2 separate regions of the Homo sapiens genome follow, and region 2 is linked to region 1. The links come from fine-mapping of genetic effects on gene expression. A gene starts in region 1. The other region holds a variant in brackets. All regions are shown on one strand. Distances are from middle to middle.

Region 1 (16,787 bases):
GAAAATCTGCAAAGTAGTTTATTCCTGAAGGAAAAGAGAGGAGAGAATAGTCTAACACTAACTCCAGAATCTCTTTCCCCAGGTCAGGTGGGAGTTCAGCGAGGAAACCAACTCTTTTTAATAGGGAGACATTTCTGTGGGCCTCAAAGCCCAGATCCTTCCCCAGAATGTTCCCCACTAGTTCATCCTCCCACACACCCATACTCTAATCAAGTATTTATTCACCAGGCTCATCTTTGAGGGAAATGCAGAAATGAATAAAGCATATTCTCTGCACCTACCGTTTATAATCAAGTAGAAAATCAATCATCAGCATCTAATGAACTCGAATCTCACTGTATGAAACGCAGCTCAGTTGCCTGCTTTCTAATTCCCTACTTGGTGGCATCACTCGTTTTTGTGAGTTCTTCACAGACTTCCCTCTGCCTTACATAGTAACCTGTGTATTCAATCAACATAACCAGTGTACCTGATTTTCTCACACTAGCTTTCAAAGACTGCATCAGGCTATTCAGAGATATATCACCACTCTTGCCTTCAAAAGCTGAATCACAACACCTTAATCTGATTCTGGCTACTACTTTACTCTAGGAAGTAGTAGCTAAATCAGTACAACCCTTTGATCTTGGAGGCCTCCGAAGAGACTTGGTGCAGATTTCAGGTGAGAGCAAAACAAGTAACTCACAGTATGTCAAGTGTTATCTGTAACACACAGAGGGACTATAAAGTAGCAAAGGAGGCCTCCCTACCCTGCCCCTGGCAAGATGGGCACCATTTTTAGAGCATGGCAGTGATGGATAAAGGCGTTAGCAGAGGCAGGAATGCCTGAGAGCAGAGTCTGCATTTCTGTGCTCCAAAGAATCAAAGTGCTGCAAATGCTCATCTGTGGCTGTGGAGATAACCTACACTTCTCTCTAGCAGTGTGGTCAAGCTGTATTGAGACTCAACAAAACCATAGGAAATCTTTAATCTTAATCTAGGTTTAACTTCAAAGCTGATTTTTTGTTAATGTGTATCTTTTAAAGTCACCTTTTTTTTTTTTGAGAAAAGTTCTCGCTCTATTGCTCAGGCTAGAGTGTAGTGGTGCGATCATGGCTCACTTCAGCCTCTAACTCCCAGGCTCAAGAAATTCTCCCACCTCAGCCTCCTGAGTAGTTGGGACTACAGGCATGCACAACCATGCCCAGCTATTTTTTTTTTTTTTTTGGTAGAGAAGGGGTCTCCCTATGTTGCCCAGCCTGATCTTGAACTCCTGGGCTTAAGTGATCCTTCTGTTTCAGCCTCCCAAAGTGCTGGAATGACAGATGTGAGTCACTGCATCTGGCCCAAAATCATTTTATCTTGAGGAGAAATATGTACTGTCCATTGACATGCAGTTGTTGGAGCACTTGGGGTCCTTGCTTCCTCAACTCCAGGAAAAGATCTTTAACATGAATAGTGGTATGCATGCATCTGCTTGCTTCTAGGCTAGGTGTCCTTGACCACGTTTTCCCTCCATAATTTTTCTAATGGTCAATAGATATTTAGTGAGGAGGTGAATGAATAGACCCATTGTGATATATCTATACAATAGAATACAACTCAGAAATAAAAAGGACCAATGTATTGGCACACAATATCCACAGATCTCAAGTGAGTATGCCAAGTTAAAGAAGGCAGACAAAAGTGAGTGCATACTGTAGACTCTACATAAAATTGTAGAAAATGAAAACCCATCTACAGTAACAGACAACAGAACAGTGGCTATCTGTGGTTGGTGAGACATGGGAGAATGGGATTACAAAGGGGCAGGAGAAAGTTTCTGGTACATATATGTCAAAATTTATTGTGATGATTATTTAACAGGTATATTCATCTCAATATTTATAAAAGTGTGCACTTTAAATATGTTCGGCTTATCCTATGTTAAATTATACCTCAATGAAGCTGAAAAAAAAGAGTGGGTACCAGTATGATACAGTTATTCACTGATAACGACAACTTGGTCAACAATGGACTGCATATATGACTGGTCTCCTTAGATTATAATGGAGTTGCTCTATAATGGTGTGCCACATTCTATCTTTTATACTGTATTTTAACTGTACTTTTTCTATATTTAGATATGTTCAGATACACAAATACTTCCCATTGTGTTACAATTGCTTACAGTATTCAGTACAGTAACATGCTATATAGGTTTGTAGACTAAGAGTCATAGTTCATATCATGTATCCCAGGTGTGCAGTAGACTATACCATCTAGGTTTCTATAAGTTGTTAGGTGACTTCATCATTGTCAATGATGAAAATAACTTACAGACACATTTTACATAGAGCATCTCCATTAAGTGACACATGACTGTATATTGTTACTGCTACCTGAACTAATCTCATTTACTCACTTCAAACTTTCTTGAGGGCACAGCTGATGTCTTCCTCTCGGTGATCCCAGGAGGATACCAAAGAGCAGTGAAAAATAGAGGCAGTGGCCCTCTCAGATCACAGTAGAACTCCCTGACCCTCAGCTGGTCTCCCGCTCTGAGTAGGAGAGGCACACTCCAGGCTCTCTTAGGCTTCTGGTTGAACTCAGTGAGTTAAGAGAACATAAAGAATGGGGTAAACTAGGACTGTGGATGTTCCTTGGTACACTCATCTCTTCCTGACAACACTCTCCATGAGGGAATTTCTAATCTGGACAGATTTCAAGGACGTCGATCACACTGCATTTATTGGTATGTGGAGTTATTTTTCTTAACTGATCAGACTCAGTCTTTGGTGTCACTCTTCCATTTTTGTCTTCCATGCAGCTTAGTATGAAGAGCCAGGACTCCTTTCCAGCTCTTACTCCAGTTTGAGCTATTGAATAACGGCTCCTTTCTCACTTGATTTCAAAGATAATATGCTGTCTTGGGTCTCCTCTTGCCTCATTGCTCACTCCTTGGTCTTTAGTGATTTCTCTTTATTTCCTGTAATTCTAAATATTGCAGTACCTCAGAGTTTAGTCCCCATGTCTACTTTCTTGTCTACTGAATTCACTCACAGGTACTCTCATCCATGTAACTACTATGACTTCCAAATGGATACTTCCAACCTGGACTTCTATGTGAAACTCAGTCTCGTATATCCAACAATCTACTTGACATTTCCATTTGGATATCTAAGAGACATCTAAACATGTCTCAAACCTCCCATCTTCCCCATCTTAATTACTGGCAATGCTAAACCTTTTAGTCATGTGTGATTTCTTGCTTTCCCTCGTGCCACACATCCAAATAATCAGAAAATCCTGTTGGGTCTACCTTCAGAATAAATCCAGAATCTGATTAATTCTCCCTGTCTTTTGCTACCACTTGATCTAATCCACCATTTCCTCTTACTTGGGTTAATCCAACAACCTCCTAACTGCTCTCTGTGCATCTGCGTTTATCTCTCTGCAGTCATTCTCAACCCAGCACCCAAAGAGATCCTTTTAACTCCTAAGTCAGTTCTTGTCACTCCTCTATTCAGAATCCCCAGTGCTTCTTAACTTCCTCAGGGTTTCAGAGTTCTCACTATGGTCTCTAAGAACATACACAACCTCCCCACTTCTACCATCATTCTACTCTTGTCCACACACTCCAGCCATGCCAAACTCCTTGCTTTTCTTGGGCTCTCTAAGCATGTTTCTACATATTCCCAATGGAAGGTCTTTTCTATTACTGTTTTCTCAGCCTGGAATATTCTTCTCCTAGATATCTATTTTGCTCAGGTTCTTACTTGCTTCAGGTTGCTGCTAATATCATCTTATTAGAGAGACCACTCTTGACCCCCTCATATAAAATTGTAACCTACCCCCCTCAATCACTCCCTGTTCTCCTTAGCCTGCTTATTGTTATCCATTGCATTTATCACTGTAGCACATATTCTATATTTACTTGCTTATTTTCTACCTCCCACAAGCTCACACTAGAGTGTATGCATGCATGTATGAGAAAAGAGACTCTATTTTATTCACTGCTCCATTCCCAGTGCCTAGACATAGTAGACAGTCAATAATATTTGTTGAATAAATAGAGTATTTTCTTTTTGCTAAATGGGTAGTACTGAAATTGTCCCTGATACATTTCATCCTTAATTTCTTCCTGTCTATGGGAAAAAATGGGCACGCTATTCTTCAACTCAGATTTAATCTTTAAGGTTGAATGAAAGAAAAGGGATAGTGTCCATGTGGTTCAGGACCAATATAACACCAGTATGATAATGGTAAGAGCCACAGCTATCAGCTTGGACACTTTTGCCCAGTTGCACCAAAAACTACCATACATTGGCATTTAGTTGGCTAAGTTCCAGAATATAATAGATAAATGTGTCATTATAGGCCTCCCTAATTTCCAAAAAATTCTACAGCATCTCTACCAAGCTTTCAATTGTTATAAAGAATGAGAACAGACTAAGACATTTGATAGTTTAATAAAATTTAGAAGCAATCTCAAACTTACAGCAAAGTTGGAAGTGGAGTTAAAAAAAAGAGACTTTCGTGGTCTCAGTAACTTGAGAGAATTCTTGTGAGATCTGGTTGCAGAAAGATTTAAAAGAAAATAATACATGTGGCAACAGTATTTAAATATGATGTTTGAAGTCACTACTTTTTGAGTTTCAGGTGGAATTAAGGTCTAACTACTCTTGAAAACGTCAGATGAAGATTTTTCTCCCTTCTACCCTTTGACCTGCTTGGGAGAAACACCTTAAAAACTGTAATGTTCAACACAATGATTATTGCTGTGAGATGATGATTGTGGTGTTTAGGCAGAATTAACAGATGTAAAGTCTCTTTTTGTGGCATATTCATTTGTGATTCTTAGGTCCAACTCAGGGTTTTTTGGGCCACTGTCAATTTATTTTTTGTCTTTCCAATGCTAATGACAGCTCCGAAAGATGCATTAAGCTAATTTTCCTTGAACTTCAGCCATCCCTTGTGATCCTAACGGTTTATTAGGAAAGTATGAACATTTTTTATGCCTTATTTGCTAATGAAACAGAGGGAGCTCTTTGTGAGGTATCTTAGATCTTGGGTCACAAATTGCATTTTTACATGGAAAAATACTATAATGAACTAAACTACCACCCAAGGCATTCTGATGATGTCTATATGTCAGTGTTCTAATCCTCTTCACTCTTTGTGGATGAGGACATTACTAGGGGCCTGAAGTAAAACAGACCTATATTTGAATTGACTTAGTGGTTTTGCTACATCTTTTAACTTCTCTGAACTTTAGTGCTTCATCCTGATTTTACTTTCACAGCCACTTAATCCTAGGCAAGTTACTTAACCTTTCAGTGTCTGTTTCCTCATCTATAAAATGAAGATACTAATGGTACCCACATAATAAGTTTTTTATGAAGTTTAAGTAAAGCAATACCCATATAGTCTTTAGCACAGAGCCAAGCATATAGTCAGCATGTAATAAATGCTTGCTATTCTTAGCTATCATTCAACTCTGGAATCTTGCATGGTTTTGTAGTGTTTCCTCAAGGGCAGCATGTTTGTATAAGCTCAGAGGTAGTTTGGATACTATGCAGTGATTCACAGTTCTGCTATCTACAGTGGGCAGGAGAGGTAGTTGGCTTTTTTATTGCTACCAACCTTGGTCACCAAGGGGATTTGTTACCTTTTCTCATTAAGCAGAAGCAAAGTTGAGGAGGATTAAGTCTCTCTACGCTGAGGTAACTCCAAGCTTTGGAGAGATTTTTGTAAATTCTGGAAAGAGTAGGAGGAACGTTAGAATAGTAGCAGAATGTATATTTGTGCTAAGTCATGTTGAGAACGTGCTAAAGTTGGAGACATGAATTGATAGTTGCACAATTAGATGCAATTATGTGAGTTTTTTCAACAGCACTTGGAAACAGAGAGCAGAGAAAATCAGCAGCTAGGGTAAAACAGAGTTAGATTTTGATGAGGAAGATATGAGATGTTGAATGTACTGGTTTAAGGAGGTGGATCAAAGGGTATGACTGGGCAAAAAAGGTGGTGAGTCCAGAGAGATGCTGATTATTAGAAAACCAAAGATGGGGAGATCAAGGAACTAGAAGTTCCTACTAGGCTGAAGATCCGAGGTACTGGGTATAAAGGTTTGGAAGGGCTGGCAGAATACAAAGTGTTGGTGGGATTTTATAATTTTAATATTTCAGTCTTGGTTGACTTATGGATAATAGATATTCCTGGTTATGGTCTTGAGAGTAGATGGGAGAAAGAATAAGGGAAATGCCATTAGAGTTGAAGAGGCTAAACTGTGAAGCCAGAGTGTTCAGTGTATCATCCCTGATATTGGTGGAACTCAGCAGTTCTCCAGAGTTCTTCAGGTTTCTGCCTGAGAGACAAATCTCTTCTCCAGGACCTGGGAGCTAGGAGTGATCTTGCCCTTTGGACAAGATCTTGCTTGCTATTAAAAGGAGCAGCAGGAGAAAAAAAGGTGGAAGAAGAAGAGTGACAGAAGAGTACAAGGAGGAGAGAGAAACAAGGAAAGGGTGAAGGGAAGCAAAGAAGAAGGGGAAGAGGAAGAAAAGAAAAGAAGCAAAAAGAATTCTAGCCCAAAGTTGTTCTTCAATGCCCTTGCAAATGCAGGTCATCATGCCTGTGTTATCTGAATGTCTTTTAACTCCAGTTGTGATCCTGCTTCCTAATGTTTACGTAACAGAAAAAAGGCTCAGAGTAGTTCTTTTACTTGCTTGTGACAACAAAACATGTTCTGTTACACGTAAAGGGGATTTAAGGTTGCAGATGGAATTAAGGTTGCTAATCAGCTGATTAGGAGAGTGTCCTGGTTAACCAGGATGAGTCTAATGTAATCGCAAGGGTCCTTATAAGTGGAAAAGGGAGGAAGAAGAGTGATGTGATGTGAGAAAGACTCAAAGGGCCATTGCTAGCTTTGATGGGGGAAGAGGGCCATGAGCTGAGGAATTCAGGCAGCCTCTAGAAGTTGGAAAAGGCAAGACAACAGATTCTCCCCTAGAGTCTTCAGAAATGAATGCAGCTGTGCTAACTCCTTGATTTTAGCCCAGTGAGACCAGTTTCAGATCAGAACTGTCACATAAGAAATTTGAGTTGTTTCAAGCCACTGAATTTATGGTAACTTGTAACACCAAAAATAGGAAACTAGCATATACCTCTCAAAGTCTTGGTGCCCATGTGTTCCACATCTGAGAGGACCACCTTGCTTTCAGACCACTGAGTTTGCCTTGGAGGCTCTGTCCCTATACAAGGTTGAGTAAGCTGGTATCCCAGAACTCTTGATTAACACATGTGGTTGGCTGGCAGCCAGGGAAAAGTCAATATTGGGGGCCGAATTCTTCCTGAATGGAGTAAGGAGGCCTGTTTCAGCTCAGAGGTGAAAAATCTTGGCTGGATTAGCCCAGTAAATTCTCAAGATGCCTGGCAAGCGTCCTGGATTGTGGCATTCTCTGACCGATGTAAAAGCTTGAGCCTCTGAATGAATGGACGCCCTCTCCAGGGTAGCCAGTTCAGGGAAACTGGGGAGATACCTTAACACCTTCCTGGGTTGACTTAATTCCTGGTTTCCTTTTGAGTGAATGGAGGTGGGCTAGGAAAGATGGGGTTCTAGAATCAGAAGAGCCGCACAGAGATCTGCAGACTCAGAGGGGCCCACAGGCATTTGCAGCAGTCACCTCATTGCACAGCTGAGGGGGCTTGTCTGAGGTCACATTAGCAGATTAGCGCAGCCCATTTCCCTTTGTGTGACTTGGCAAAGAGAAAAATCGCCTATTAGTTTTTCCAGTGGAAGAGAATCCCAGAGCGGTCCGAGTGGGTGAGGAGTCTTGATAGAGCGATGTTGGGAAAAGTTCAGGAACTTGGAGGAGAACAGCAGGGGAGGGGGCAGCGCTGAGCGCGGAAGGATGGAGGGAGTGGGGCCCCCCTCTGCCTCAACTCTGTTCTCCTCATTTTGAGCTTGTATTTAAGCACGCCGGGGGGCTGGCCTGGGGGCCTCTCACTCGCAGCTTCCTCCAGTGCCTCCCAGGGCGGCTCTCCCGGGTCTCCCCTATTTGGCCGGCTCGGCCAGCTGGGCCTGGCGTTCGGGGCGGGGCCGGAGGAGCGCGGGGGTGGGAGTCCGGGAGGAAGATGCACCGAGCGGGCGGGCTGCGAGGCCGCGGGGCATGCGGGAGGCGGAGGGGTGGGGACCGGGGTGGGCTGCGCCCTCCCGCTCTGGCCCATTCCACACCCCGCCGAAAGCGGACACTGTCAGCTGAATCACTCCCCTTTTAGGAGGAGGGAGGGGAAAAAGGTGTCTAGCTCCTTTCTGCTTAAAAAAGCACAGGGAGATCGCGGGCAGCTTTGCAGTCGCTGCCTTCTCGCGCCTGACCATGCACCCCTGCATCTTCCTGCTGGGCCACAGGCGAGCGCTTTATTTCTGGAGCTGAGGGCTAAAACTTTTTTGACTTTTCTTCTCCTCAACATCTGAATCATGCCATGTGCCCAGAGGAGCTGGCTTGCAAACCTTTCCGTGGTGGCTCAGCTCCTTAACTTTGGGGCGCTTTGCTATGGGAGACAGCCTCAGCCAGGCCCGGTTCGCTTCCCGGACAGGAGGCAAGGTTAGTGACTCTTCTTTATTTCTTTTTAAAACAGTGGTGGTAAGACTTGCGGGAATTTTGTTGCTCCCCTTTCCCTTCCCCCACCCGGCAGAACTGAACTCTGAAAAGCCATTTGGCTGCGTTGTAAGGAAATCTGGGCTGGGACCTCAGGAGCCTAGGCTTTCTCAGAATTCAGTGCTTAAGGTGATGAGTCCTTCATTCTTATAGAAAGGTGAGTACCTCACTCTTTTACAGGGATGACACTGCAGTCTTTGAAAGACCCAAGAGGTAGCTGGTAACTTTTTCTCTTTTGTCTCCTCTTTGAATGCTGTACTGTTTTGATCCCCTATTTTTCAGACTCTAAACATGGAAAATTTTTTTTTTAAGTGCTAACTGGCTACTGGCCGTCATTGCAGTGTTTCTAGTTAGTTTTAAACCTCTGGTCAGGAAAGGGGAAATGTGATTCTTCCCCCCTACTGAGCAGGCTTGGCTGTGTTTTGGTTTCCTGGAAAGATTTAGGGTTGTATTTTTGAAAGAATAGTCCTTTTGGGGGAACTATACCTCCATAAGGGCTCACTTTTTCCTGTCCTGTCTCACTGACCACAGCTGGCTGCTTCTCTTTATGAATTTCTGAACTCATGTTATTGTAGGAAGCATTGGAAGCGTTCTGGTGGACAATTTGTTGTTGTTGTTTTATTCTTTTAAGCCTAACAGTCAGCAGTTTATTGGACTTGGAAGGGTCAGAGGCACCTTCATGTTTGGTGGGGGGTTCATTGTACCTCTGGGGGTAAACAGTCCTAGCAGCAGCAATGGCCCGCGTGGCACTCTGTGTCAGCCCATCCGATCACTGGCAATAGCCTTCCAGGGTGCAGGTACCAGTGTTGCTGTCCCTGCTGTACAGATGAGGATGCTGCAGCTTGGAGAGCTTATGAGGCCAGCTAATGTAGAGCAGAGTTTTCAGCTCAGGTAGTCTGACTCTTAGAATCATGCAGCACTGTCCTGTAGCAATAATAGGGACACACACGCACACACACACGCATATGCACCCACACGCATGCACACGCACACAGAGCACTGGGTTAGCATGCACTAAGTCCTGTGTTTGCTGACTGTGCTGAAGCCTCGGGAAGTGTCCTCCATGACTTTCTGACATCCCTTTAATTCCCAAGGCCACTCGGGTGATAAACATCACCAGCCTGTCCTTGTTTAGGATTTCTAAGCAGGGTTTTCTGCTCATGTTGTAAAATTCAAATATTGCTGGACAACTCATCTGCTGTGGCTTCAAGACGTATCAGAAGCAAGTCCCTCTCTTTGCTTTACTTGGAAAGCTGGAGCCAGCAAACACTGGGGTTAGATGTCAGTCAGCCAGCACTCACTTGTGTAAACGGTCCAGATACAATCTCCCACCCCCAAGTTTAAAATAGCAGGGCTTGTTGTTCTTTGAAAAACAGTTCCTTTGTGAAAAGTCTCCCTTCTGGGGCAGCACAAACAAAGCCTGCAAGCACTTCCCAGGGCATTTGGAGATGATTTCGTTCAAAGACACACATTCTCCTGGGTTGGTTTTCAGCTCTGCTCCACATCTTCTTTGTAAGGGAATTCAGCTTGGTGTGAAGCAGACACCACGGGGCCATGGTTTTTGCTCTCTGGAAAGTGAGATATGATTATTTTCCCTAGTCACCTCTATCTAGAGCTATGTGCTGAGAGTATCCACTGTTCAAAAAACCTATAAAGTGCTCCAAGCTTATTGGTGATATATATATTTATTTAGGTTTAAAAATAATTAGAGGTTTTTGTTTTTCGAGGCTGAGTCTTGCTCTGTCTCTCAGGCTGGAGTGCGGTGGTGCAATCTCAGCTCACTGCAACCTCTGCCTCCCGGGTTCAAGTGATTCTCCTGCCTCAGCCAACCAAGTACCTGGGATTACAGACGTGTGCCACCATGCCCGGCTAATTTTTGTATTTTTAGTACAGACGAGGTTTCACCATGTTGGCCAGGCTGTCTCCAACTCCTGACCTCAGGTGATCTGCCCACCTTGGCCTCTTAAAGTGCTGGGATTACAGGTGTGAACTACTGTACCCAGCCAATAATTTCAGTTTTTAAAAGCATTTCACCAACCACAATCAATTCCCTAGTGGATTTACAAATAATCCACATTTGGTGCAAAGGAGAAATTTCTAAGCAGACTTACATTTAGAATTAAGAAGGAAAGTCACAAAGAGGGAGGAAGGGATGGATGAGGGCAAACCAGTAGAGAATGAAATTCTAAGGCTATCTGGGATTAGGATGGCCTGGGTTTTTCCCTCCAAATGACCTACCTACAGCCTCACAAATAACCAATCTCCTTAGACTTCCATTTCCACTTTGATAGCATTTTTGAATGCATTCAAATCCTGAACGTTTAAACTTGCAAATTACTTCAGGATCATCTCACCCATTCTTATTTTTGAAATATTTAATTTTTTTTTTAATAGAGATGAGGTCTAGCTATGTTGTCCAGACTGATCTTGAACTCCTGGCCTTAAGCAATTCTCCCACTTCAGCCTCCCCAAATGCTGCGATTACAGGAATGAGCCATCATGCCTCGCCCCCATTTTTACTTTTATGGATAAGGAATGGGAGGTCTAGGGCATCAGTTAGTCAACATATATGATTGAGCACCTAATAAATGCCCCTTCACGAGGAGGGTAAAGGGAATTGCACAGGGTTCCACATTTGGAGACAGATTCAGACACTACATTACCTTTTAGGTTCCTTCTAGTTCTAAGAGTTGGGCTAAGTCAGGATTTTAGTCGTTGGAAGGAGTATGGAGATAAATCCAGTCCTTTCTGGGACTAGAAACATAGAAACAGGCTATTTGACTAACTGCCCAGTATTCTTTCCACATTGCTCAGTTGTGATATAGGAATGTGCTGTGACTTACACAGGATTTCTTGGTTCACAACCAAGTATCAGAACAACGGGAAATATTAATCTTGCACACAACATGCTGCGTGTCTTCTACAGCCAATCATATCCCCTTAGGTTTGTTTACCCCTATGCTGTTTACAAAGCGCCAGTCTGTTCCATGACCTCTTTTGCTCCTGACATCTCTGTGAAATCAACAGGACAGTCACTTTATTCCATATTAGAGATGAACTCCAGGCTTGTGCAAGAAACAGAGGGAATGTTGCAGTGTTTTCAGATAAGAGTTTTAATTATTTATGTATTCTATTAAAAAAATTCTGCAAGGAGGAAAGGATTTCAGCTATTTTCTTAATGTAAAAAGAGAGTTCACAGATTTGATATTTTGTGTTGATTATAATAATCTATACAGTTAGCACATTAGTTATCATAAAGTTTATGAGCAAATCCAACCTTCTGTGGCATACTTTACAATTTTGAGGAGCCCAACACAGTTCTTCACAACATTCCAACATGTGTAAATTTCTATAATAAAAATAGCGTTGCAAGGTTACAGTTATCTTACATGGAAGATAATTATGAAAATAAACCTCTATTACAGGAATTTCATAATCTTGTTTTTTAGAAAGGGATCTGAGAAATTCAATTGTCTCTAAGATAGAAATAAATATAAAGAATAAGTACAGATAATGCTCGCTTTGGAAGCACATATACTAATATTGGACCGATACAGAGAAGATTAGCGTGGCCCCTGCTCAAGGATGACATGCAAATCTGTGAAGCGTTCCATTAAAAAGAAAAAAGAATAGGCCGGCGTGGTGGCTCATGCCTGTAATCCCAGCACTTTGGGAGGCCGAGGTGCGTGGATAACCTGAGGTCAGGAATTCGAGACCAGCGTGGCCAACACAGTGAAACCCCATCTCTACTAAAAATACAAAAATCAGCCGGGCGTGGTGGTGCATGCCTGTAGTCCCAACTACTGAGGAGGCTGAGGCAGGAAAATCTCTTTAACCCTGGAGGCAGAGGTTGCAGTGGGCCGCCAAGATCATGCCAGCCTGGGCAACAGAGCAGGACTCTGTCTCAAAAAAAAAAAAAGAATAACTACTATAGACTGAGCCTAAACTGTATACAACTAGTAGGTAAATATTCTCTTACCTCTGTCCTTTCTAAGCTGAGGGAAAAAGATGCCTTGTTTTGTGTTTTCAAAAGTGCTTGTGCCAGTAGCCTTTACTTGAATTTCTCATGAAGTACCATTGAAACTTGTGGACTGAGGCCTTAAATATAATTTTAAACAAGGCAAATCAAAGTATTTGGAGCTTATAATATTTCTACAAACCCTTGTATAAACTGTGATGTAATTTTCATGTATCTCAGCCTCTGGCCCTCCCAACCCCACACCTTATTGACAACCCGCCTTGACATCTGTGCTAGGTGACAGACCCTGGAGATGCACACAGTGAGGGCAGAGCTTAGGAGTGTGTGCTCTGGGATCCGATTGCCCAGGAAAAAATCCTCATCCCTCACTGTTGTCACTTTACGGAGATGGAAGTATAGTCCCAGATGAGGGATACAGTTAATAATGCTTACTCAGAGAACTGTGAGGATTAGATAAGACCAAGCCGGCATACTCTTAATGTAGTACTTGACCATAGAAATGATAAAAATTAGGAGCTATTATTATTTCTTGACACCTATTTCTCCATCGCTGTCATATCTCCTCTGAGTTCTGCTTTCATTGGCCAAGATTATAGCTAACAAATCTGCCAAACTAATCTTAGCTTGCGGAGAGGAGGCTATGGTGAGTGTGGGCTTCTCTCCTGTCTCTGCTTGGAGGTTACACATGTTTATGTCCACAGTGATCCCGGGTAGCCAAGTTCCTACCTTTAAAACCAACAATGCTAATGTTTAGCTAATGAATGTTATTTGTCAAGCACAATTTTAAATCTATTAAATATATTAATACATTGGAGCCTCACTCCCAGCCTAGGAGGTAGATGCTATTATTATTATGCCCATTGTATAGTTGAGGTAGCTGAGCTTGGGTCACCAACACAAACCACACTTTGTAAGTGACCCCCGATTTCCATCCACACCTATGGGCTGCCATGGCTTAGCTGCCTCCTATGCAATTAGATCAGGAGGGAAAACCGATCTTATCCCTCATCACTTTGCCCAACAAAGAGGCAATTACTAAGTCCATTGATTGCTAAGCAAATTGAGGTGTAAAGAGGTGAAGCACTTCTTGTCTGGTCAGATCACCGTCCCTGGGAGCAGTGTTATCACCTCTAACCCTGCTATACTCTTTGCCAAGAGCAGCTGCTTTTCTTTATTTACTAATGAAGTGTGGTGGCTAGAGCATGGTTTTGAAATAGGAGGCACAGCGTTTCAATCCAAGGAATGTTATATAACGTGGCATAGTGACTTCCTACATTCGGTTTCCTTATCTATGAAATGGGGATAACAACTGAATCTCTATCACAGGGTTGTTGTGAGTATTGAAGGAGGAAAGACTTATGGTAGCTGGCTCATAGCAAGTGCTCATGAAACACTTACTATAATTATTATCATATTATTCTACAGCCAACTTAAATTGGCTCTCTTAAAAATTCATTAGATCAAAAGCAACTGGGTCAAAATTTATAAATTTGTTTGCTCTTTTATTTATTGGGCAATAGGTGCTAGGGCATAGGCAAACTTTAGTCTTTCACTTTATACTTTCAAAAATCATGTTTAAATCTGTGAGATGTATCTTCAGAGGCAGTTTCTATAAGGGATATTTTAAGTCAGAAAATTTATGAGAAAAATTGTTATTTTCTGGATAAATTGAGATAACTCCTAGATTAAGTTTGCTTCCGCCACACTCTTCCCGTTGCAGTTCTTCTAACTCAGATCTGGGACTATTGCTTCTCTGCTGGATGGCCTGGATGGCAGAATACCAAGCCTGCCATTTAAGGCTGCCTCCACCCTGGCCTGCTTTTTCTCACATCCTTGCCTCCTGCTAACACTCCTGTTGATCTGTCACTCCAAACTCATTTTGCTTTCCTATTGCCTGAGAAGACCTCGAGCTCTACTCTAGCTGCCCCCTCCCCATCTCCAGCAGTCTCAGTCAAGGGATGCCTCTTCCAAGGTGAATTCTTCCCTCAGGATGCAGCCAGCTGTAATGGGCACAGTGAGCAGGGCATCGGGAGTGATCATTGTCAGACTGCCTTGTATCATGGGGCACTGGCATGCCTTACTTATCTTGTCTACTGGATATTCTCTATAGTTCTGTCATAAGCCAGCACAGCACTCTCCCATTCAATCCTTCTTACCTATTTATTTTTAATTGGGAAAAGCAACACAGGAACTACAATTTTTTTTTATTATTTTTTATTTTTTATTTTGAGACGGAGTCTTACTCTGTTGCCCAGGCTGGAGTGCAGTGGCACGATCTCGGCTCACCGTAAACTCGGCCTCCCGGAGGAACTACAAATTTTAAAAGGAAAAACCACACCCCAAATCTCATCATCATAAAAATATGTACTCTTACCCATTATTTCAAAGGCTTTGTTCATATGCATATATATTAATATATCTCACAATTGCAATTATAGTAGAGATGCAATTATACATTTATTGCCCCTTTATTATATCCTATTGTTTCCATATTTCTGAAAAATTACCACAATTATTTTGATATATCATCTCACACAAAAATTTAGAGTAACTTTTTAATAATGTAAGATTGATTTAGAATCACACTTGTTGGTTTCTGTTTCATGACAACCTAAATTTTATTATAGTTGTTTTCTAAGTATAACAAATAAGATATTTTCAACTCTTTTCAGAGTTTTTCAATAGGTTATAGCTCATTTGACTTGGAAGAGTATAACATTTTATTCAGAATTCATGTTTTAAAATGTGATTGCTTTTCGTTCGTGCTCCCTTTAAATCAGTCAGTCTGGCTTTTGGAAAAAATAATCTGCTAGAAAAGATGCTTATTTTTCTGTTTTGATGGAGATGCAGAAACTTGCATGTATAACAGGGTATTCAAATGGGACTCTTTCTTTTGTCTCAGTTTCTGCCAAGACCTTAAGTCTGAGAAGAAAGAAAAGATTAATTTTCCACATACACTTAAAGAGAAATTTCAGACCATATGTGTGGGACTTGCAGGGTGATGGTGTGATTCTGATTCCTTCACTCTCCTAGTATGCACGTGAGGAGAGGCTTAAAGGCCAGTGGAGAGATTTCAGAGAGAGAATTCCTTCAGGACAGATGAGAGTGCCAGGGCATTCATCCCCCCTACTGTGCCCCAACTCAAGGCAAGTGAAGGGACAGCTAGAGATCTTGAGGGTTTGCTATGGGCTTGGGGAGCATGGGCACTAGCATTTTAGCCTTAAAATACTGATAGGCAAAAGACTGCCTGGAATGACATTTGGTGACAGAGCTGACCAAAAGCACGGCCAGGAGTGGCCTGATTTTCATGACGTGGGATGGGAGTGAAGGGGATGTCAGCGATCATGGTTGCTTCTTTTGAGCCAGATTTAGACCTCATGGAAGGCAACAAGATGTGGATCATCTTGAAAAGATGCCAAAGAGGATGCCCTGCAGGGGTGACGTGGTTTCAGTAAAGGGGTAGAAGATAGGAAGGCAGTGGGCAGCCAGCTGGAGGAGGAATTGTCCACATTGAGGGACCTGAAGGGAGCAGAGGTTTCCCAGTGGACACAGAGCTTCTCTTAATAGAAGGCGCCAGTCAGCATGTGGACACTGACTACATACAGGGCACCATTGCTAGATGACACCGTTACTATACCCAGCTGAATAAGATATTTTCTGACCCAACTCCCTTCACTGTTCGAGCCCTGGAGGAGCCAGAGGCATCACTGTGAGTAGCAGAGGAGAAGAGCAGCCAGAGGGAAATACTATGGAAGCTGACTGCATCCGCCTCACCCACCCACAGTTTCTCTCTTTGGTAGGTCTAGACCTGGAAGGTCCTCCAATACAGATTGGAGCAGACATTTCTTAGGGAGTGAGTGGACAGGAGAGAGGACTGAGTCAGTTATACACCTCAGTTCATGGCACACTAGTATCATGAATTTGCGAAAAAGCTTTTTTTGTTATATATATTTATGCATTTTTGTTCCCACTCCCTACTCCAATTCTTCCCCATGGAAAACCATTTTAATGGGTTCCATATGTATTTCTTGTTCCAGTGTGTTCTGGAAAACTTTGTATTATTGTTTTAGTGTGTGTGTATTTTCCATGAATGTAAGTAGCTCTGCATTAGCTTATTTTATTTCTTGTTTTTCGTGGAGTGTTGCTGTGAAGATTTGCCCATGTTGCCATGTGGTCTGCTGTGCCTAGCT
Region 2 (16,787 bases), 69 kb after region 1:
CTATTATTCTATTGGTAATTAAGCAGCACAGTGAATGTGGATTAAGCTTGTTACAATCATGTGATTTGGGGAGTAATGAATCATCTAGAAGGAGGACCAGCTGGAAGATGGAAGCAGGACTCTTCAGTTGGAACCTACAACGCACCTGCTATTAGTTCTCAAAATGCAGTAAGTCAAGCAAAATATTTGCCTTCAGAAGCCAGACTACTATTTGGGCTAATTTGTGCAGAAACTTTCACAGGATAGCAACACTTAAGATCATTGTTTATTTTTGCTAGGCAGGTAACTCACCATCCTTTAAGAGACAGTATAGTAGAGTGGTTTTAGTGGTGGAGTCTGGAAGCAGAATGCATGGACTGGAATTCTAGTTCTGTCATCTTTCCATTGTATAATCTCGGACAAGATATTCAATCTCTATATGCCTCACTGACCTCATCTTTAATAAGGGATATAAATTGTAGCAGTTCATAGGATGTGGCTTCAATGAGTTAATATCTGTAGCATGCTTAAAAGAATGTCATAGTAAATATGCCTTACATAGTAAATATTCTCTATTGTTTTTGCCTATTGTTATTTCAATTGTTTTAACCATTCTTCTGGTGTATCATATGGAGCTATGTGTGTGTGTTTTTGTGTGTGTTCTCCATAAATTAAGAGTCTGTTTGTAGCATAGCCATGAAGGAGATCATTTTGAAAATGGAATTAAATCAGGAACCAAAAGCATCAAATCATGCTACTGTTTTAGTATGGGCTTCTTTTGCAGAAACTGAAAATAAGAAAGAATTCTTTTTAAAATTAATATATATGTTTAACTTATGTATATATCCAGTAAGACACTGTCTATATCAGTATATACATATACTGATATAAGTGGAAGCAATATAAATGAAAGCTATATATATACAGACAGAGTTTTGCTGTGTTGCCTAGGCTGGAGTGCGGTGGTGTAATCATGGCTCACTGCAGCCTTGACCTCCTGGGCTCAAACAGCACTCCCATCTCAGCCTCCCAAGTAGCTGAGACTACAGGTGTGCGCCACCACTCTTGGCTAATTTTTTTTCAATTTTTAATAGAGACAGTGTCTTGATAAGTTGCCCAGGCTGCTCTTGAACTCCTGAGCTCAAGCGATCCTCCAGCCTTGGACTCCCAAAGTGCTGGGATTACAGGCGTGAGTCACTATGCCCGGCCAAGACAGAATTCTTTAGCAAGTGGCTTTAAAGTTGTTAGGACCTCTCGTCCCCAGACACTTCTGTGTTTTATATCAATTGGCTGCTTTCTTGGTAGGCTGACCATTTTCTGACTATCTTCTCTTGTGAATATACTTCTAATCATGTAATTGAGCTAGTCTTATATCAAATTGTGATATCGATCAAGTTTATATTCCAGTTGTCTTACCTCCTTTTTGCCATTTTTCTCCTCATATCACCTCTTCCCTCTATCTTCTGAAGGGATCTGGGTGGTACAATGGCTCTCCAGAGCCCTTATTGGACCATTTAACTGAGGTCTTCCAACTTCATGGATCCTTTATTTCTCCAAAGTTGTCCCATCATTTCTTCTTTAATCCATCAGAGCCTCATGCCCACAGCATAGCTAGAAATGTCTACCTCATTTCAAATTTGAGATCCTAGCTTTGATTTATATCAAAGCCACTGACCTGTCTTCCAGTTTGGGCTGTCTGGCCTCCCTTTCTTCATATGTTAGGGCTCAGGGTTCTAACATTTTATTGAGTTAGAGGTAGGTATGGGCTAGACCAAGAGAGTTATGGAAAGGGCTCTCTGAATGTCACTGAGGCTGATTGCCTCAGATGGAAAAGGACTGGGGCCAGATGGATTTCTCAGTATGAAGCGGGTGAATTCTTTGGGAATTGAGGAAAGCTGGTCAACATTAGAGTGGGACTGGAAAGGGCCATTTTTAAAGGAGAATTTGTACTTTCCGACCACAGCTGCTTAGTTAAGTGAAATCTGCTCTTAGATGTGTAGGGGAATTGTTTCCAGGGAATGAGTTCAGGGGAACAGAGAGGCCCATGGAACAACATGCCTCAGGAGGAATTAATTATTAAGACCCAAGGGGGTTGAAGAAGGCAGGGGGCAGCACAAAGGCCAATGGTCAGATCCTCCTTCTATGCAGTTCTTGGGAAATCATTTCTTAACTTCCAGGCTGAATTTGAAGTTGAAGTCATAGCAGGCAGCTAGCTGTGTGCTGCTTTGGAAAGGTGGGGAGGGAAGGTCCTGGCTGGTGAGAAGAGAAGAAGGATGGAAAGAAGAGTAGTGAGTTTAAAGTATGCAATAATAAAACAGCAACTCAAAGTACTATTAAGAATTAAATCCAAGCACACAGGGAAAAAATAGAGTATGCAGTGAAAGGTCATATCTGGATGAAGCTTTGCTAGTAAGGCAGGTTAGGATGCCCCGTCTCTAAGGCCAAGTCCTGCAGCAGCCTGAGCATCTTCCTTCATGTTACATTCAGGAACGCCAGCTTGGGGAGGAGCACAGCTCATGAGTATGAGTCTCTGAATGGGTTCTTTTCCCATTATTGGCATGCAAGTAGCCTGACGAAAGGTGCCATCTGTTTGTCTCATTGAACTGTATCAATTACGTGATGAAAGAGGTTTTAAGATGGCCATGTGCTGGAGTGGATCTCATTCAGAGCAGTATGGTGTGTATGCCCGTTGCTAGTGTTACCAGGGCTGACAAGGCAAATAGCAGCATGACCCTTTCCCTCCCACTCCCCATCCCAAGTGGAGAGGGATTCCAGTTTTCAATAGGAAAAGATAAATCAAGGATTAGTAACTGCAACACAGGGGCGAAAGAGGATGTTCAGGGCAGAATCTACTGCGACAGAGCCCTCCCTTTACCCCTTCTCCACCAACAAGATCCTGAGTCACTGCATCATACCCTCTGCCACAGTACAGTGGGATCATGTTGGCTTCCCAACCACATACATATTTCTCATCTTACCTCTGCCTAGGGTGGATTGTTGAGCAGATGGTGTTAGAAAAACTGGCTTATAATATGGAGAAAAATAAAACTAGAGGGTCTCATACAAATATGGACCCTAGGTGGATTAAGGACTGAAACGTGAAAGGTAAAAGTGTGAAGCCAACAAAAGAAAATGTAGGATAATATTTTAGTGACTTAGTGGTAGGAACATATTTCTTAATAAAGATCCAAATAAAACACAGATTATATAGCAAAACATTGAGAAATATGATTATATAAAATTAAGCATTTCTGAGTTAACAGAAAGATATAACAGTAAGAGATACCTGAAGAGTTTGGTGTCTAAAAGATAGAGGACATTCTGGAAATAAATAAGAAGATGGGAGATCTGGTAGAAAAATTGACAAAAGCACATGAGAAGGCAGTTTACAAAAGGGGAAACTGAATTGCTTAATAAATATATGAAGTGATACTCGAACTCAGTGATTCAGAAAAATACAAATTAAAAGCACTTGATGTTACTTTATACCTGGGAGATTGACAAAGTCTCAGAAGTTGGTAATGTCAAATCTTGGCAGATATAGAAAACAGGACCTCTTGCACTGCCAGGGGAGTAGCCTGGTGTGACCATTTGAGACAGAAGTCTGAGAGTGCATTCCAAATTAAGTGGTCATATGTCCTGTGACCCAACCATCCCATTCCTGGGTATATGCCCTGGAGGAATTCTTAGATAGGATTATGAGGAAATGATCACAGTGCTGATTTTGGTAAAGGAACTGAAGGTCAACTTAGTAAAATGCATAAAGAAAAACAGCAAATACACACTATGGAATATTTTGTAGCAGTTAGAAGGAACCCACTAGATATGCCCACAGCAAATGGATAGATGGTAACAAGGTATATTTGAGTTTTTTTATAAGATAATAAATAGCATAGTATTTATGACACAATACTATTGATATAAAATAAACTACATTAGCAAACAAAAACATTCTATCTATCTATCTATCTATCTATCTATCTATCTATCTATCTATCTATCTATTTTGTTTTCTCCAAGGACATATCCAAATGCGAGGATACATGTCAAAGCACAACAGAGTGGTTACTATTTTTTTATTAACATGTTTTTTTAATGGGTGAGTAAGACAGGGAAGTGGGGATAAAGGAAATTTGCTGAGGTAATAGCTTTCTATTGCTGCATAATAAGCTACCACAAACTTAGAAAGTTTGGAACAATACCTGTTTATTAGCTTACAATTCCGTAGGCCAGAAATCTGGCACAGCATGACTGGGTTCTTGGCTTAGGGCAGCACAGACTGAAATGAAGGTATTAACGGGCTGAGTTCTCTAGAGACTGTGGGGAGAAGTCCGTTTCTAAGCTCAGTTCTTTGCAGCTGTAGGACTGAAGCCCCTGTTTCTTTGAGTGATAAACCAGTGACACCATCGACTTTTAGAGACTAACTGCATTTCTTGCTATGTGACCCTCCTTCATCTTCAACCCAGTGGTGACACATCAGATCCTCTTCTGTTTCCCATCACCGACTTGTGTCCCTCTGCCCAGCTGGAGAAAACTCTGCTTTCTTTCAGGGTCAATTCTGAAAGTGCTTCCCCAAGCCCATCTGTCAGCCTTGAGCAGACCCCTAATGGGCTGAGAAAGGGACCAGGTCTTTATGCGGTGAATGAGACACATCATTCCATAGACATTAATTTTTGTGGATGAACTGAGAGCTATTTAATAGGAAACAATTACGTGACTTATTAAGGGTCATTAAATTTTAGTATTCATAAAGTCAGTACATGACTAAAGCTTATTATAGACTCCAATTTGGTATTTTACTAAGAAGCCCATTCTCCCCGTAATGCCTGGCAATGTAGCTGAGGTCTCACTACCATCCAAACACATAGATGGCTGCAGTTCTGCAGTTTGGGGACAGAAGTTTACCATCAAGGTAGTACTTAACTGTTTATTTTTATTTGATACTTGTTTTAGTGCTTATTGTTTATTTGGTACTTGTTTTTCATTATAAATTGCTATTAGTTTAGCTTCATTATTAATTTAGGTTATTTGTTAAATAGCCAATAATGGGCAGTGGTACACATTTTCATCAAGAATATTTCTATGTTTTCAAAGAATTAAACTCAAAATTATATATATATATATATATACACACACACACACATACACATACATAAACATATTTCTGTTTTCAAACAGACTTAAAAGCATATATATATTCATGCATATACATGAGTTCATACATATATTCATACATTCATACATACATGTATGCATACATATGTATATGCAAATTGAATTACCAATACTTAAACCTTTGCATATACACTTTTCCAAATTTGCTAGTATTAATATTACTATTTTTTATTAACATTTTTTTTAATGGGTGAGTTAGGTGGGCAGCTAATCATTTGCCCTCACTGAGCAGACTATCATTTTTATAAGTTTAAGTTCCATAGCTGAGGAAGAAAAGTTCTTTGCTAAGCACACTATTGTAGACCACATCAAGATGCATAAATTGAATATAAAATTTTCAAAGAGAAGTAGAGAAAACAATTTATTTCTTGACTTCCCTTAGAAATGTCCCTAACTCTTCTCACCAACAAATCATCTAGGAGTATAGAGGTGATGTAGTTTCATCTTCCCTGTTTTTAAGAGGACTTCTTTTTTTAACACCTCCTAACTGCAGTTCACATAACGAAGTCAAATGATGTGTACCGCCTGTTCAACTATGGCAAGGTAGAGATCTGTTCCAGTGTGGAGTTTTCTAAATTCAATTTGCAGAGGTGAGCTGGTGCAGCCACAGCATCTAGACCAAACTTGATTCTAGTTTGGAGATACTCTCTTCTGGTTACATAACTGAGGAACCACATGACAAGAATACTGCTAGCAAGGTCTCCACGGAGGAGTTGAACCAAAACTCATTTGGAAAGAATTGCTTGCCGTTTGGTCTTACTTTCTCTCCCACTTCCAGAGAGTTTTTGTATAATGGATTATTGCTTCTTCCTCTATCGATTTGCAAAGCAAAAACCATACATTTTAGAATTATCACTGGAAATTACCTGATCTTTCTTTGCAAAAACAAAAACAATTCTGATCACATAAAATTTTAAAGCACTACCTTGATCAAATAGTTTTATGCAATTAGTTAAGAGACTCATATGCTTTTTGCCCTTTAGTTCCTTTTGGGTTTGTGTAGCATCTGCAACACAAATCCTGAATGTACAAATTTTCCTCTTTGCCAGAGTTTCTGCAACATTCATGCAGCTCTTACTTACACTCATCCAGCTTTGGCCACTGACTAAATCTCTCATCTAATGACATGATATATCCAGCTCAGTTTTCCTCTCTAAAAAGTTTGAGCCCACAGCACATTCATTGATATCACCAGAATCCTGGAAACTTGCACGTACTCTGTGTTCTTGGATATGGTCAGGAAGATTTGTCTGGAATTTCAGTAGATGACTTGACTCTTCATACATATAAGGGATTTTCAGCATGCTTTGTGGAGCCACCTCCACAAAGAGACCTTCTTAATAGTAAGCTCTTTGCAGAGCAGAAATGATTTTGCAAACTGGATCTTTGCATAAGCATGGGTGAAACCGCTGTAGTTTTCCCGGGAACTCTATTAGGATGTGCTTGCTAGCTACTTTTAACACACAGCTGCCAAATCTTAGTGGCTAATATCAAATTTTATTTCTCATTCACACGATAGCACAGTCTGGGTCAGCATCTCTAGTGGGATGGCTCC[C/T]CTCCAAGAAATAACTCTCCTTCCAGTGGTAGCTCAGGAATCCAAACTCCTTCATCATGTGGCTTTTGCAGTGTTAGAGTCCCTCACTTCCCATTCTGCTGAAAAGCTATCAAAGTATGAGCTGAGAGTCTTCTAGGAGATTTTAGGGGCCAGATTGGGAAGTATCATCCTAGCCTTAACTGTGTAACTTTACAGAGCAAGGGATGCTGGGAAGTTTTCTTGTGTGACCAGAAAGAGGAAATGGGAAGGTGAACACTGAGGCAGTCTCTGCTGCAACACTGTCACGAGCCTTTCTTCCTCACTTGTACTCCTGAACTGATGGCCTGCCCCTAGACAGCCACTCATTAGCACAGCTGACAGGCTCCTCTTCTCAGGCAACCAGCACAGCCCTCTCTTTTTTGCTTTACACTCCTGGTCTGGATGAAGACAGTGACTTAGAGTGGAGGAATCTATTCTTTAGGTATGATTATGTTATGATTGCTCATTTGTTTTTTATTTTTATATGGACTAACTTGCTCCATTGAAGCCTACAAAAATGTAAACCTGGGGGCAATGTCCTCTTCTAAAAATGAACTGACCAAATGATCTTTTAATATAGAAGGGAACCTACCTTCAAGGGCATTCGAGGCCCACAGCTCTTCACTGGGGCTGCTGCAAACCCGTAAGTCCCCCCTTTCTGTTCCCGTCTTCTGGCAGGTGGCTTCACGGGAAGGTAGCATAGAAGTCTAGGGTTGAGTCCTGGGTCAGGCTCAAGCTGTGTGACCTTGAGGTGAAGTAAAATTAACCATATAAAGCCCTAGCCCAGTATCTGGGATTTAGTTCTTAGGATATCTTAGTGCTTGTTATGATCTATTATTATTGAGAAGAAAGAGGTTTTCCTCAGTGAGTGAGTTGGCTCATGACCATGATATGCTTGGGACTCTTTAACAATTTAAAACTTTTTTCTTTTTCAACAAGCTTTATTGGGGTATATAACTGACCAGTAAAAATTGTATATATTCAAGGTGTATAACATGATTTGATACATGTATGCATAGCATAATGATCACCACAGTCCAATTAACCAACATATTCATCAATTATTTTTCTTCACACTCTTCCTTCTCTGCCCCAATTCACCCTATTTTTTATTCTAAAAACGAGACCCCTGTCTCAATCAGATAATTTTTTCTCATTGAAGGAATCTCAAGGGTCATTCTGAAACGGATTAACGAAGACATACAACATATTTTATTTGGATTCCATAATATTGAAAATAAGCCAAAACTGACAGGTAAATATCAGGAGTTTCCACCTAAACATGTGAAGTTTCTTCTTCTTAAAAAAAAAAAAGGCAGAAAATGTTATAGCAATAGGCTTTTATGCCAGCTGGGCCAGAGTCACTGGGGGCTGAGTCTCCCCTCCCTACAGGGTGAGTCCCGTCTACTCACTGTAGCTCCCACCACTACCTCTCTTTTTTTCTGACACTAAGACCAACATGTGGTAGTCACCATTGATCATTATATTTGTACCTTGTTTGCTAGTGGTTGAAGGATGTTGTTTCTCTTGTGAATAACTACATAAAAAAGAGAGGATAACAAAAGATATGCCTAGGGTGTTAAATGTGTGACAAAGACGGGAGAAGGCATAATTCGTTGTGAAAGTGAAGATCATTCCTGCTTCTAAGTATAAAGCATGTGCCAATTTTGAAAGAATAACAGCCAGTGTGCTTCACTCATTCATGTTACCAGTTTGGCCCTGAAGGCAATTGAGCTTGCCACCCAGGGAGAAAAGCTCTCAGTTGTGTATAATTAAGTATCAGAATAGATAATGCAGTCAATATTATGGGCAGTCCAAAGGAGGGCTTTGTATTTTTTGTATTTCTTTTCTTTTTCTTTCTTTTTTTTTTTTTTTTAGAAATGGGGTCTTCCTCTGTCACCCAGGTTGGAGTGAAGTGGTGTGATCATAGCTCACTGCAGCCTCAAGCTGCCGGGCTCCAAGGATCCTCCCACCTCAGCCTCCCAAGTAGCTGGGACTATGGTGTGCACCATCACATCTGGCTAATTTTTTAATTCTTCTATTTGTAGAGTTGGAGTCTTGCCAAGTTGCCAGGCTGATCTTGAACTCCTGGCCTCAAGCAATCCTCCCACCTTGGCCCCCCAAAGTGCTGGGATTACAGGCGTGAGCCACCATTCCCGGCCTATATTTTTCTTGAGCTGTGCAATGATGTTTTTTATTTTTCTTTAGAATCATGATTTTATTTTTTATTTAAATTTTTTAGTAAGAAGAGTACTCCTTTTAAATACCAATTAATTTTGCAGATCTCCTGCATGATAATAGTAATAATCATAGTATCTTTTAATTTGTGGACCAAGAAAATATATATGTGCACATGGATTTGAGGATTCTTTTAAATTTTGCTGCAACCCACCAGCCATTTGCAGGTGATAAGTTGAAAAACACTTGATGTCTATAAGTTCACTTTTTATTGGTAATTAAGGAACTTTTGGAGAACACCATGGAGATTAAAGAGGTCTTATAGAAAATATAACCCAATTTCCTCATTTGCAGATGAGGAAACTGAGGCCCAATAAAAAGTGAATGAGATCACAGAACTAAAGCCAGAACTAAAGTCTTCCTCCCAGGGCTGTGCTTGCATGCTCTGTGTCCAAGTGGGCAATTATACGTCCCCAGGGTGAGGTTGGCCACTTAGAGAGCTTTCAGAAGTGAATTTTCTACTCAGTGTTAGAGACCAAATGGAGCATCATGTGGCTTTTCATTTTCAAGGCATTAAAATAAAAGAAATCAGGATTTAAGGCATTTCCCCAGCATGGAAGGGAGAAATAGGATCTCTCAATTGTGGAACATGGAATATTCCATGGTGATAAGTTGTAGATTCCAAGGATAGAGAGGAGACCAGGAGTGAGGGAAAAATATAGTAGTTATTTTTCATAAACAATATTATAGAGGACATTTGTAAAAACAAAACAGAATGTGACTTGAAGATGCCTAAATCTTGATTAAACACGTGGAAGAGTAAGTTTTACTATTTTAGTCTAGACAGAAGGTAGACAGTTTCAGGAAATCTAAAATTCATCAGTTCTAAATGAAGAGCTGGAATGTAGTAATCAGTGACTTGGTTGGCAGAGAAACATTATTATACTGAAAACCTTTCATTAAGAGGATTGAAAGGGTGATGTTGGGTAATTAACATCTGTATAGCAAGTTCACAGCTAGAGAAGGGAAGTAGCTTCATGTATTTGATAAAAATGTGACTTGGAGTAGCTAAGCAACAGGAATGATTTTTTTAAATTTAAAATTGTAAGTAAAATGTGTTGCCTTATATATTTCAATTATGTTAAAGCTAACAACGAGTACTTAGAGAGTGGGGAGATGCCTCAGTCACGTACTGCTGGTTGGAAAAGATCGTGACAAGAGTGTTCAGAGGGCAATTTCTTAATGCAGATCAAAATAAAAATTTGTATGACCTAAAACATTATAATTTCATTTCTAGGATTTTATTTCCAGTATATCCACTATAAATCAGTGACTGGGATGATTACAACAGTATTGGCTATAATAACGAAATACATAAATTGGAAACAAACTAAATGCCAAAAAATAGAGAAATGCCCAACAATTGGCGTATCTTCATACAGTGGAAAATTATGCAGTCACTCCCAGTACTTGGGAAGATTATTTGAAAGTAAATAAAGGAATTCATAAGATTGCTAAATATGAAAAGCAATACATGATATGACTCAAAATTTTACATTATAATGATTATAGATATAAATGTAGTAAAACTATAAGAATGTCATTAATGGTCATTACTGGTGTTATGATCATGTGAGATGATGATGATGATTGTTATTATTTTAACTTTTAGGTTCTGTGGTACAAGTGCAGGTTTGTTACACAGGTAGACTTGTGTCATGAAGGTTTGTTGTACAAATTATTTCACGACCCAGGTATTAAGGGTAGTACCCATTAGTTATTTTTCCTGATCCTCTCCCTCCTCTCACACTCCACCCTCTGAAAGGCCGCAGTGTATGTTGTTTTCCTCTATGTGTCCATGTGTTTTCATCATTTAGCTCCCACTCATAGGTGAGAACATGCCGTATTTGGTTTTCTGTTCATGCATTACTTTGCTAAGGATAACAGCCTCCAGCTCCATCCATGTCCTTGCAAAGGACATGATCTTGTTCTTTTTCATGCTGCATAATATTCTATGGTGCATATGCACCACATTTTCTTATCTAGTCTATCATTGATGGGCATTTAGGTTGTCTATGTCTTTGTTATTGTGAATAGGATCGCATGAGATTATTCTCCTGATCTATATTTTCCAAATTTTTTTTTATATATTAAGCTATAGCAATATATAGTTTAGTAATTAAAAAACCCAACTCCATAATCAAACAGAAATTTCTTCTCTCAGTCAAAACCGACTTCAGTTCTACTGGCTACAGAACAGTTTATTATCTCCTCTACCAATAAACTGTTTATCAGTTGTCTTTAGATGTTGTGCAAATGCCACTCATAGTCTAATAAACATATGTTAAAAGATCTGTATAAAGTTCTTCTAAGAGGTCCAGGATAGGAAATGCAAAAGCATACTTAAAAGCAAATAATGCAGGTGGTGCTTTTAACATATTCCAACATGATAACAACTTGATTATTGTTGGCAGTTTGCTTTATGTTTAATTTAAATCTGTTGCTCTTCATTTCAAAGATAAAATTCCCCCTGCAAAGAGCAAAATCCTAGTATTTTACTTTGATTGCTCCCAAATAATTCTGTGATTTCAATTTTTGATTGAAAACATCTAAACAGTGCTAGAATTTGAAGGAACATTTGAAATTATATAACCCAGTCCCTATTTACAGGTGGCACAGCTGAAACCTGGAGAAATAAAGTGATTTTTCCAAGGCCACAGTTAGCCAGTTCCAGAGACTCCTAAATAAATGTCAGCCACTCACCATGCCCAACAATACCTAGAAGGGCTTGCATGTGTCCTTCAACAGCAGAAAAGAAACCAATTGTTACCAGATAATCACAAATACAAAATGGCAGCAAGAGGATGGAGAATATTCCTTTTCCCTTCCGAGATGGCCAACTTTTAGCTCCCCATGGGTACTGTGAGCTGCTTCTTTCCTTGGTCTCCTGCCTCTTTCCTTTTACTGCCTCTTTGTCCTTCTCATCTAGGTTGAGGTAGGAAGTCCATCACTGATGGCCCCCAGATGAGATGGCTCCTTAGTCCTTACTACAGGAAGTGTTTGGGTATCTCAGATTCTTCTGAGTGGATCGTTTATAATGTCCATGCTTCCCAAAGTAATACACAGACTTAACACAATTCCTATGAAAATTTCAATGGTGTTCTTCACAGAACTAGAAAAAGAATCCTAAAATTTGTATAGAACCATGCAAAAAACAAAAACAAAAACAAAAACAAACTGCAAATAGCTAAAGCAAAACCGAGAAAGATAAACAAAGTTGGAGGCATCACATGTCGAAATTTAAAATTATAGTACAAAGCTACAGTAATCAAAACAGTATGATACTGGCATAAAAACAGAAACATAGACCAATGGAACAAATCAGAGTGCCTAGAAATAAATCCTAACCAACTAATTTTTAACAAGGGCATCAAGAGGACACAATGAAAAAAGAATAGTCTCTTAAATAAATGATGCTGAGAAAACTAGATTTCCACTGACAAAATAATGAAATTTGATTTTACATCATACAAAAAATTCAAATGGTTAAAAGATCTAAATGTAAAACTTAAAACCATAAAACTCATGGAAGATAACATAAGGAAAATGCTCCTTGAACATTGGCCTTGGCAATGACTTTTTTTGGATATCACACCAAAAGCTCAGGCTACAAAAGCAAAAATAAATAAATAGGACCACATCAAAGTACAAAGCTTTGCACAGCAAAGGAAACAATCAACAAAATGAAAAGGCAACCTACATACTGGGAAAAAAATTTGTAAACTATATAACTGATAAGAGGTTAATATCTAAAATTTATTTAAAAATTCTTACAACTCAATAGCAGAAAACAAAATAATTTGATTAAAAAATAAGAAAAGGACTTGAATAGATATTTCTTAATAGAAGACATACAAATAACTAACAGTTATATGAAAAAGTACTGAACATCACTAATCATCAAGGAAATGCAAATTAAAATCACTATGAGATATCACCTCACACTGGTAAGTTTGGCTATTACCAAAAAGACAAGAGATAACCAACGTTGGTGAGGGTGTGGAGCAAAGGGTACCCTAGTACACCATTGGTGGAAATGTAGATTGGTACAGCCATTATGGAAAACAATGGAAAACAATATGGAGATTCCTAAAGAAATTAAAAATAGAACTAACATGTGACCCAGCAATCCCTCCTCTGAGTATACCCCAAAGAGAGGAAATCACCACCTCATACATAGATCTACACTCATGTGAATTACAGCATTACTCACAATAGCCAATATGGAAAAAACTTAAGTATCTATAAACAGACAAATGGATAAAGGAAATGTGTATATATGGAATACAATTCAGTCTTAAAAAAGAAGGAGATCCTGCCATTAGGACATTATGCTAAGTTAAGCTAGACACAGAAAGAAAAATAATTGCATGATGTCACTTATATGTGGCATATTTTTAAGAAAGAGCTTGTATACCCAGAGAATGAAACAGTGGTCATCAGGGGGATGGGGGAGAGGAAATATGGACCTGTAGGTCAAAGGATGAAAACAGCAAATATATAAGATATATATAAAATAGTTTAGAGATCTAATGTAACATGAGTACTAAAATTAATAAAATTATATAATATTAGGGATTTTTGTTGTAGAAAATAAGTAGATTTTACCTGCTCTTGTCACAACAAAGTAACTATGTGAGATGATAGATATGTTAAACTGCTTCACCACAGATTTATTTTGCTGTCTACATATATCCTATGTTGTAAACCTCAAATGTACACAGTAACATTTATTTTTAAAAAGACAAATAAATCCATACCTTGCTCTCTTTTCACATGATAAAACCTCAATGCTCTATTTATATGAAAAGGATCTTTTAAGTATCTCTATATTCTACTATGGAAAGATTTACATGATATAATGTTAAATGGAAAAGAGAAAGGTGGAGAAAAAGTCACATATTTTAAAAAATGAGATGATCAGGGACATCTGAATACTGACTGACTATTTGATAAATTAAAGAATTATGGCTAATTTCTTTAGGCGTGAAAAGAGCATTGTAGTTGTATTTTTTTTTAAAAGAGAATCTGTGTTTTTGGAGATACATACTCAAATATTTTCTGATGACATTATCTGCTGTCTGGAATTTGCCACAAAATAATCCAGGATGTGGTTTGGGGGAAGTGGGTGGGTATAGATTAAATGAGATTGTCCAAGAATTGATCATTGCTGAAAATGGGTGAGGAGTACATGGAGGTTCATTATACCATTCTATTTTTGTAATGTTTGGTATTTTCCATAATAACAATATAAAGAACTCCTATTAGGATGTTTAATGGAAAAGGCAGGAACTTGAGACCCTTGAGTATTCAGGGTTTAGAGAGGGAAGAATGAAGAGGGTGAGGAGAATTCCATTCTGTGGAATCATAAATATTTCTTGACTGACTAAATGATAAATTGCAGGTATGAATGAATTGATAACCAAACCTGATTCTTCTAATTCTAGTGCAAGGCAGTTTCCACTAAAGTTCAAGTTAATGTCTCTTGTAAAACATAGACTACTTACTACCTGTAGGTTTCAAGATTGGAGTTTCTTACTTGTTTATCCAACATTGTACCACATGCTTTGACCTTGCTGTGTGACTTATCTTTCCAAAATGGCAGAATTGAACCTTCCTTTTGTCCTCCAAGCAGCTGTTTTGTGTAGAAGTCTGATTAATATTTTTTAAGGATACAGCTTGAGTGATCAGCTCATAGACTGAGAGGCTGTTTGTTTTTCATTCTTGACCCCTGCACCCTGGAGAGGAAGCACCGTAAACTACACACTTACTGAGGGAAACAATAGTTTATGTTGCTTGGAAACTTGTTTGGAAATGTTTCAGTATCAACAGAGACCCAATATATAAAGAGCTAGAGTTGTAGGTATCTGAGGCAAAGATGAAGAAATAGGCTACTAAGTTAAAATCTGATTCAGAACAATCCTACTCACTCTTAGAACAAAATTGCTCTTCAGCTTCTCATCCTCAGTTGATGTACCCCCAGACACCCCTGTGCTTTCCTCACCTGTCATTTCCATTGGATTGTGATTCTTTTCATTCTCATTGGCTTTCTCCCACTAGCCTATACTTCACTTTTTGTAACCTCAACACATAGCACAGCACTAAGTGCATAACTGTTAAGTAGTAATTCTTGATTGGATATGTTAGATAAATGTTAATGGAATCAATAGAGGTTATAATCCTCATAGAAGCAGAGAGTAGAATGGGGGTGAAGGGAAGACTGGGGATACAGAGGCTAGCGGGTGAAGGGAAGGGAAGGGGGAGATGATGGTCAAAAGGTACAAAATCTCAGACAGGAGGAATATATATTTTTTCTTGTTTTGAATTATATTGCATACCATGGTAGATACAGTTAATAACAGAGTATTGTACATTTCAAAATTTCTAAGACAGTACATTTAAAATATTATCACAAAAACTGTTAGGTACTGCATTTGAGATGATGGATGTGTTCACTGGCTTGATTTAATTATTCCACATTGTATTCATAAATCATAACATTATTTTATACCCACAAATTTACACAATTATAAACTGTTTCATTTATAATACAAAAAAATCCTGAAGGTGAGGAAAATATAATCAGAAGACAGAAAAAGATCTGACAGGCGGTGCGCATTTTTCACCCAAGGATACTGAAACTGAGGGAGGCCCACTGACTTGCTCCTAGTCACTATGGCAGGACCAGACCTGGGTGCTCATCATCTTTCCATAGAATCACACTACTCTTTGTTTGAAGGATGGCAAATTGGCAATGAATTTGCAGACGGAGACCAGGAGGACCCATGAGAGAGCACAGGACATCCATCTGGACATTTTCTTGGTATGTGAACTGATGGATGCTGGTCCACACCAGCTGTGAAAGGAAAGAGAAGAAAGAGGGTCTCCATTAATATCATCAGAACTTTAGAGGAATCCTTCCTGGATAGTTAGAGGAGATGGAATTAGGACTGGTCCTGGATACCTTTGCGATCTGGGTAAAACTTGCCTTTCCTGCTTTCAGGACTATGCGCTCCTCTCTCCTTCATTTGCCAGGACCCCAGGATATCTGCCTTGCTCATTGTGCAACATCTTTAACGTTGATGTCCTAGCTAAGTCTGTTCCCCATAATCCTCTAAAATCTTCTTTTTTTAGCTGAGGCTTCTATAATAGAACACTGTGGAGTAGGTGACTTAAAAAACAGATATTCCTTTCTCAAAGTTCTGAAGGCTAGAAGTCTGAGATCAGGGCACCAGGATGGTCAGGTTCAGGGCAAGGGCCCTCTTTCTGGCTTGCAGGCACTGGCTGACTTCTTGCTGCATCTTCACACGGCAGAGGGAGGAAACTCTGCTGTCTCTTCATCTTATAATGGCACTAATTCAGCATAAGGGTTCTACTCACAGTGCCTCATCTAAACCTGTTAATAATTACCTCCCAAAGGCCCGGCCTCCACATACCATCACACTGGGATTGGGGCTTCAATCTATGACTTTAATGGGAACAGAAACATTCAGTTTGTAACAACTTCCCTGACCTGTGCACCAGTCTCCAAGACCCAGAGGGTGCAAGGGAAGAGATGCTAGCCTGCAAAAGTAATCAGTGCTGAGGTGTAATAGCAAATTATTTTTCCTGCATTGTTAATTTCCCCTTCATTGCACCATCTTGCTGTTATTTCTTCCATATTTAACAACAATAACAACAACAACCCTCCTTGACAAGCCCAGCACCTGAGTTGGCAACTCTGCTCCACATCTGTAACAAAACTACTGACAGTATTTGCAGCAAAATCACTGTCTCTCATTACTCCTTTTCCTATTCTTTCCTAAACTCTACGATTCGAGAA

Which allele goes with the higher level. Alleles are on the strand shown, and positions count from the first base shown. SD is a standard deviation of normalised expression in the study named.
In carriers of allele T in region 2, the expression in adrenal gland of the gene that starts at base 8,304 in region 1 tends to be higher than with C alone (large effect, 1.0 SD a copy in GTEx).

What was found. PIP is the estimated chance that this variant, and not a neighbour inherited with it, causes the effect.
Region 2: its variant is fine-mapped to the expression of ADAMTS12 in adrenal gland (GTEx, PIP above 0.99).

What each region holds. Positions count from the first base shown.
Region 1 is chr5:33,883,507-33,900,293 of GRCh38, reverse strand. ADAMTS12 (ADAM metallopeptidase with thrombospondin type 1 motif 12) reads left to right here and starts at 8,304. Exons shown (of 24, transcript NM_030955.4): 1 at 8,304-8,564. The coding sequence starts at 8,438. It also overlaps the pseudogene RNU6-923P. RefSeq lists enhancers at 8,021-8,520, 8,521-9,022.
Region 2 is chr5:33,814,908-33,831,694 of GRCh38, reverse strand. The region is part of intron 2 of ADAMTS12 (ADAM metallopeptidase with thrombospondin type 1 motif 12); the gene reads left to right. Among named protein-coding and RNA genes, the nearest start is that of ADAMTS12, 69 kb to the left of the region's middle. The variant C/T (reference allele first, on the strand shown) is at 6,710.